Linked DNA regions of Homo sapiens. The protein of the gene in region 1 interacts with the protein of each later gene in a biochemical or structural test. Each region holds a gene or a part of one and is shown on either strand. Other genes may lie near its edges.

Region 1 (3,808 bases):
TCTCAGCCTCCCGAGTAGCTGGGACTACAGGCATGCGCCACCATGCCCAGCTAATTTTTGTATTTTTAGTAGTGACAGGGTTTCATCATGTTGTCCAGGCTGGTCTTGAACTCCTGACCTCAAGTGATCTGCCCACCTCAGCCTCCCAAAGTGCTGGGATTACAGGCCACCTCCTGGGTTCAAGCGATTCTCCTGCCGCAGCCTCTGGAGTAGCTGGGATTACAGGCGCCCACCACCACGCCCGGCTAATTTTTGTATTTTTAGCAGAGACGGGGTTTCACCATGTTGGCCAGGCTAGTCTCGAACTCCTGACCTCAGGTGATCCACCCGCCGTGGCCTCCCAAAGTGCTGGGATTACAAGTATGAGCCACTGCGCCTGGCCTTCTTTTCTTTTTGATTGAAGTATTCCCTTTAGCATTTCTTGTAGGACAGGTCTGGTGTTGATAAAATCCCTTAGCTTTTGTTTGTCTGGGAGAGTCTATTTCTCCTTCATGTTTCAAAGCTATTTTCACAAATTATAGTTTTCTAGGGTAAAAGTTTTTTCCTTCAGCACTTTACATATGTCATGGCACTTTCTCCTGGCCTATAAGGTTTCCACTGAAAAGTCTGCTGCCAGATGTATTGGAACTCCCTTGTATATTATTTATTTCTTTTCTCTTGCTGCTTTAGGATCCTTTCTTTAACCTTAACCTTTGGGAGTTTTATTATAAATGCCTTCACATAGTCTTCTTTGGGTTAAATCTGCTTGGTGTTTTATAACCTTCTTGTATGTAGATATTGATGTCTTTCTGTAGATTTGGGAAGTTCCATGCTATTATTTCTTTGAATAAACTTTCTACCACTATTTCTTTCTCTACCTCCTCTTAAGGCCAATAATTCTTAGATTTGCCCCTTTGAGGCCATTTTCTAGATCTTGTAGGCATGCTTCATTCTCTTTTTTCTTTTGTCTCTTCTTACTGTGTATTTTCAAATAGGCTGAATTCAGGCTCACTAATTCTTTCTAATACTTGATCGATTTTGCTATTGAGAGACTCTGATGCATTCTTCAGTATGTCAGATGCATTCTTCGATTCCAGAATTTCTGCTTGATTTTTAATTATTTCTTTTTTTTATTTATTTTTTATTTTTTATTTTTTTTTTATTGATCATTCTTGGGTGTTTCTCGCAGAGGGGGATTTGGCAGGGTCATAGGACAATAGTGGAGGGAAGGTCAGCAGATAAACAAGTGAACAAAGGTCTCTGGTTTTCCTAGGCAGAGGACCCTGCGGCCTTCCGCAGTGTTTGTGTCCCTGGGTACTTAAGATTAGGGAGTGGTGATGACTCTTAACGAGCATGCTGCCTTCAAGCATCTGTTTAACAAAGCACATCTTGCACCGCCCTTAATCCATTTAACCCTGAGTGGACACAGCACATGTTTCAGAGAGCACAGGGTTGGGGATAAGGTCACAGATCTACAGGATCCCAAGGCAGAAGAATTTTTCTTAGTACAGAACAAAATGAAAAGTCTCCCATGTCTACTTCTATCCACACAGACCCGGCAACCATCCGATTTCTCAATTTTTTCCCCACCCTTCCCGCCTTTCTATTCCACAAAACCGCCATTGTCATCATGGCCCATCCCCAATGAGCTGCTGGGCACACCTCCCAGACGGGGTCGTGGCCGGGCAGAGGGGCTCCTCACTTCCCAGTAGGGGCGGCCGGGCAGAAGCGCCCCTCACCTCCCGGATGGGGCGGCTGGCCGGGCGGGGGGCTGACCCCCCCCCCCACCCTCCCGGACGGGGCGGCTGGCCAGGCAGAGGGGCTCCTCACTTCCCAGTAGGGGCGGCCGGGCAGAGGCGCCCCTCACCTCCTGGATAGGGCGGCTGGCCGGGCGGGGGGCTGTCCCCCCCACCTCCCTCCCGGACGGGGCGGCTGGCCGGGCAGAGGGGTCCTCACTTCCCAGTAGGGGCGGCCGGGCAGAGGCGCCCCTCACCTCCCGGACGGGGCGGCCGGCCGGAAGGGGGGCTGACCCCCCCCACCTCCCTCCCGGACGGGGCAGCTGGCCGACCCCCCCCCCCCGCCTCCCTCCCGGACGGGGCGGCTGGCCCGGCAGAGGGGCTCCTCACTTCCCAGTAGGGGCGGCCGGGCAGAGGCGCCCCTCACCTCCCGGACGGGGCGGCTGGCCAGGCGGGGGGCTGATCCCCCCCACCTCCCTCCCGGACGGGGCGGCTGGCCGGGCGGGGGGCTGACCCCCCCCACCTCCCTCCCGGACGGGGCGGCTGGCCGGGCAGGGGGCTGACCCCCCTCCCCCCTCCCGGACGGGGCGGCTGGCCGGGCGGGGGGCTGACCCCCCCACCTCCCTCCCGGATGGGGCGGCTGGCCAGGCGGGGGGGCTGACCCCCCCACCTCCCTCCCGGGCGGGGCGGCTGGCCGGGCAGAGGGGCTCCTCACTTCCCAGTAGGGGCGGCCGGGCAGAGGCGCCCCTCACCTCCCGGACGGGGCGGCTGGCCAGGCGGGGGGCTGATCCTCCCACCTCCCTCCCGGACGGGGCGGCTGGCCGGGCGGGGGGCTGACCCCCCACCTCCCTCCCGGACTGGGCGGCTGGCCAGGCGGGGGGCTGACTCCCCCACCTCCCTCCTGGACGGGGCGACTGGCCGGGCAGAGGGGCTCCTCACTTCCCAGTAGGGGCGGCTGGGCAGAGGAGCCCCTCACCTCCCGGATGGGGCGGCTGGCCGGGCGGGGGGCTGACCCCCCCACCTCCCTCCCGGACGGGGCGGCTGGCCGGGCAGAGGGGTCCTCACTTCCCAGTAGGGGCGGCCGGGCAGAGGCGCCCCTCACCTCCCGGACGGGGCGGCCGGCCGGGCGGGGGGCTGAGCCCCCCACCTCCCTCCCGGACGGGGCGGCTGGCCGGGCAGAGGGGCTCCTCACTTCCCAGTAGGGGCGGCCGGGCAGAGGGGCTCCTCACTTCCCAGTAGGGGCGGCCGGGCAGAGGAGCCCCTCACCTCCCGGACGGGGCGGCTGGCCGGGCGGGGGGCTGACCCCCCCCACCTCCCTCCCGGACGGGGTGGCTGCCGGGCGGAGACGCTCCTCACTTCCCAGACGGGGTGGTTGCCGGACGGAGGGGCTCCTCACTTCTCAGACGGGGCGGTTGCCAGGCAGAGGGTTTCCTCACTTCTCAGACGGAGCGGCCGGGCAGAGACGCTCCTCACCTCCCAGACAGGGTTGCGGCCCAGCAGAGGCGCTCCTCACATCCCAGACAGGGCGGTGGGGCAGAGGTGCTCCCCACATCTCAGACGATGGGCGGCCGGGCAGAGACGCTCCTCACTTCCTAGATGGGATGGTGGCGGGGAAGAGGCGCTCCTCGCTTCCTAGATGGGATGGCGGCCGGGCAGAGACGCTCCTCACTTTCCAGACTGGGCAGCCAGGCAGAGGGGCTCCTCATATCCCAGACGATGGGTGGCCAAGCAGAGAAGCTCCTCACTTCCCAGACGGGGTGGCGGCCGGGCAGAGGCTGCAATCTCGGCTCTTTGGGAGGCCAAGGCAGGCGGCTGGGAGGTGGTTGTAGCGAGCCGAGATCACGCCACTGCACTCCAGCCTGGGCACCATTGAGCACTGAGTGAACGAGACTCCATCTGCAATCCCGGCACCTCGGGAGGCCGAGGCTGGCGGATCACTCGCGGTTAGGAGCTGGAGACCAGCCCGGCCAACACAGCGAAACCCCGTCTCCACCAAAAAAAAACGAAAACCAGTCAGGCGTGGCGGCGCGCGCCTGCAATCGCAGGCACTCGACAGGCTGAGGCAGGAGAATCAGGCAGGGAGGTTGCAGTGA
Region 2 (3,808 bases), about 11 Mb from region 1:
CTACAGGCGCGTGCCACCATGCCTGGCTAATTTTTGTATTTTTAGTAGAGGTGGGGTTTCACCACGTTGGCCAGGCTGTCTCAAACTCCTGACCTCAGGTGACCCGCCCGCCTTGGCCTCCCAAAGTGCTGGGATTACAGGTGTGAGCCACCATGCCTGGCCGGTTCTATTATTCTTTTACTGGTTTATTATCTGCCTCTCCAACTCCAATCTGAGTTCCTTTGTATCCCCAGTGCCTAGAACAAGACGGGCACAGAGAGGGCGAGCAATATTTGAGTAGACGAATGCCCACATTCTCCTGTCCTCAGCTGGGATCCATCCTGCCCCAAATCTTTGACCATTGTCCCCACAGACCCTCCCTTTCCAGTAAAGTCCTCTGTTGCCCCCAGCTCTGTGCCAACTTGGACACGTGGTGCATCATGTCACCCCAGAACTGCTGCCCCCAGCTGCAGGAGCACAGCCAACAGCCTTGCAAACAGTACAACCTCTGCCACAGGCGCAGCCAGGTACGCGGGGGCAGGGACACGGCGAGAGCGGGAGCCGGTGTGAAGTTAGGACACCTAGGCTTGGGCCCTGACTCTGCCCTCACTAGCTCTGTGACTTCAGGTCACTTGCTATGTATCCAAGCCTCAATTTCTCCTTTCTGTGAAATGGGGCAGATACAGCCCATGCCCACAGCCCGCTCTTTGGATTGACTCAGAAGGCACCACTGGTGTCTGTCACATCACTGTCATGCTGGGGAGTGCACTACAAACCAGAGAGCAGGGATACTTTGTGCTGAGGCTCTACTGAGCCCTCTCTAGTGTGGACACGGCCTCGTGTCTGCCATGACTGGACTGGACAAGGACTAGGTGTCAGGTCCATAACTATACCAAATGTTACACTTGGGGTCAGGTTTGAGCCCATGCTGTGGTCTGGAGGGAGGGAGTGAGTGAGCAGATAGCTGAAAGAACCCTTGGGGGGCCATAGGCAGGTGAAATGTAGTTTTATTCAGCAGCGGCTCTCTCACACTGTCCACCTTTATCTGGGCTGTCTGCTCCGGCCCTGTGGCTCCTGCTGCCCCCACGCCTGCAGCTGCTCTCCCTGGCCGGCAAGGCCAGCTCTGTCAGGGTCAGCAGCTTAACTCTTTCCCTCTGGGCACAAGCGGGTTCCTGGCTCCCCACTGCCCACCTTCAAGGCGACCGGCTGTCCCTTGCAGGGGTTAGTAGCATTATTCTCTCTCTGGGCGAGCAAGCGTGCCCTGCCGTGCCGAGCTGAACCAAGCTCCGTGAACAGCGTCAGCAGGGCAGTTTTACCTTCTACTGACAGTAGAGTCCAGTATGAACTTACACAAACAGGTTATATAGCAAGTGGAGTACGTGCCTGCCCCCCAAACTCGCTGAGTCACTCTGGCCCGGATGTCCGCCTCGGCCTATTCCTTGACCAAAGCACGTCCATGTGCCTTACACTAGGCATCACCGTGCCCAGGCCAAAGGGTAAGAGCACATCGCGGGTGAGACAGGGCAGGACTCCCCCACACCCTAGCCGGCCTCCCTCTGGAGCTCACACCACAGCTAAGACAGATGGGTGAGGCAGTCGCGGTGTGCTACACGCCGGGGTCAGCACCCCCACTGGGTGCCCATCCTCCAACGTGTATGGGAATCCCCTCCAACTCTCCTCTTGCTCAGGATCCGTTTGGGGACTTGCTGAAGAAGCTCATGGACCAAATCCATGACCACCTGGAGATGCCTGAGTTGAGCCGGAAATTTGGGACGCAAATGTATGAGCAGCAGGTGGTGAAGCTGAGTGAGGCTGGTGAGAGGGGCAGCCCTTCTGGCGGAGGCGAGGATGTGGGAGTGGTCAGGGGCGGGGCCTGCCGGGGCGGAGGCCTTTGGGGCGGGGCCTATCCACCCCAGGGGTGGAGTCGAGTGGGACGGCCCTATGGGGCAGGGCAGGGGGCGGGGCTGTGGGCTGCTCAGACCCTGCGCCCTCTTCCCGCAGCGGCTTTGGCTGGGCTTCAGGAGCAACGGGTGTATGCGCTTCACCTGAGGCGCTACAATGACGCGCTGCTCATCCATGACACCGTCCGCGCCGTGGATGCCTTGGCTGCGCTGCAGGATTTCTATCACAGGGAGCACGTCACTAAAACCCAGATCCTGTGTGCCGAGCGCCGGCTGCTGGCCCTGTTCGATGGTGAGGGGCGGGAGGGGGCTTCGGGGCCGGGGATGATGGGACCTGGATGCGAGGTCAGAGGCCAGGGCACAGGCGCCAAGGTCGGATGGGAAGGTGCCCGTGAGGATACTGGTGGAGATCCTATTTTTCTAACCAAAATCCAAGGCCATGGGTAGGACTGATTTATTTCCTCATTTGTGAAGGTTTTTGCTTAGTTGTTAAAATTAATTAACATTGTTGACTTTTTTTTTTTTTTTAATAGTCGGGGTCTTGCTCTGTCACCCAGGCTGGAGGACAGTTGTGCAATCATAGCTCACTGCAACCTCGACCTAATGGGCTCAAGTAATTCTCACCCTTCAGCTTCCCAAGTAGCTAGGCGTACAGGTGGGCACCACCACTCCCAGCTAATTAAAAAAAATTTTTTTTGAAGAGGCGGAGTCTTGCTTTGTTGCCCAGGCTGATCTCTAACTCCTGGGCTCAAGTGATCCTCCTGCCTCTGCCTCCCAAAGTGCTGGGATTACAGGTGTGAGCCACTGTGCCCGGCCCAGATTTTTTAAAAGGATTAGCTAGGAGTGGTTCCTTTAGACTGAGAGAGTGAAGCTGAAAGTCAGAGGGTGAAATTTAAGGTTGCAAATCGCAGCACAGGCTGGGGCTCAAGAGATCTGGGTAGCAGAGGTCAGAGTTAAAAGCTCAAGGGTCATCCTGGTCACTGGGGAGAAGAGGGTTCTGGTCTGAGGTTCTGTACTGTATGACCCCGGTGTGAGGCTGGCCTTGAGAGTGGGCTCGGTAGGAGGCATCCTTTTTTGTTTTTGTTTTTGTTTTTTTGAGAGGGAGTCTCGCTCTGTCGCCCAGGCTGGAGTGCAATGGCACCATCCCAGCTCACTACAACCTCCCCCTCCTGGGTTCAAGTGATTCTCCTGCCTCAGCCTCCCGAGTAGCTGGGACTACAAGTGTGCATCACCACGCCCAGCTAATTTTTTTGTATTTTTAGTAGAGACGGGGTTTCACCATATTTGTCAGGCTGGTCTCGAACTCCTGACCTCAGGTGATCCGCTCACCTCACCCTCCCAAAGTGCTGGGATTACAGGCGTGAGCCAATGCACCCGGCCAGGGCATCCTTAAATATGTTCTTGGTGCTGCTGTGGGGGAGTTGAGCAGGAGTTCCATCCTTCCCCCACCCCCCACCCCCCACCTTCTGCACGCCTACAGTCCTATTGCTGTGAGAACCTCCTCCGCCAGTGCCCTCCCCACTCCAAGATCTGAATCCTCTGCCTCTGGGGCTTTTCTTCTTTCTCTTTCTTTCTTTCCCTCCCTCCCTCCCTTCCTTCCCTCCTTCCCTTCTTTCCTTCTCTCTTTCTCTCTCTCTTTCTTTTCCTTTTTTTCTTTCTTTCCCTCCCTCCCTTTCTTTCCTTCTCTCTTTCTCTCTCTCTCTTTCTCTTGCTTTCTTGCTTTCTTTTTTTTTTTCCCAGACAGAGTCTCACTCTGTTACACAGCCTGGAGTGCAGTGGTGCAATCATAGCTCTCTTCAGCCTTGACCTCCTAGGCTTAAGCGATCCTTCTGCCCTCAGCCTCCCAAGTATCTGGGACTACAGACATGTGCCACTACACCCAGCTAAATTTTGGGGTTTTTGACAGACCGCAAGAATGAGCTGGCCCA

Evidence for each region.
Region 2: the proteins of RNF135 (region 1) and DHX58 are reported together in a solved structure, tested with the Homo sapiens proteins (one study listed by BioGRID).

Annotation. Positions count from the first base shown.
Region 1 is NC_000017.11:30,977,487-30,981,294, forward strand, and holds part of RNF135 (E3 ubiquitin-protein ligase RNF135), read left to right. Parts: intron 1-3,808.
Region 2 is NC_000017.11:42,105,968-42,109,775, reverse strand, and holds part of DHX58 (ATP-dependent RNA helicase DHX58), read left to right. Parts: intron 1-389; coding exon 390-506; intron 507-1,667; coding exon 1,668-1,794; intron 1,795-1,980; coding exon 1,981-2,172; intron 2,173-3,786; coding exon 3,787-3,808.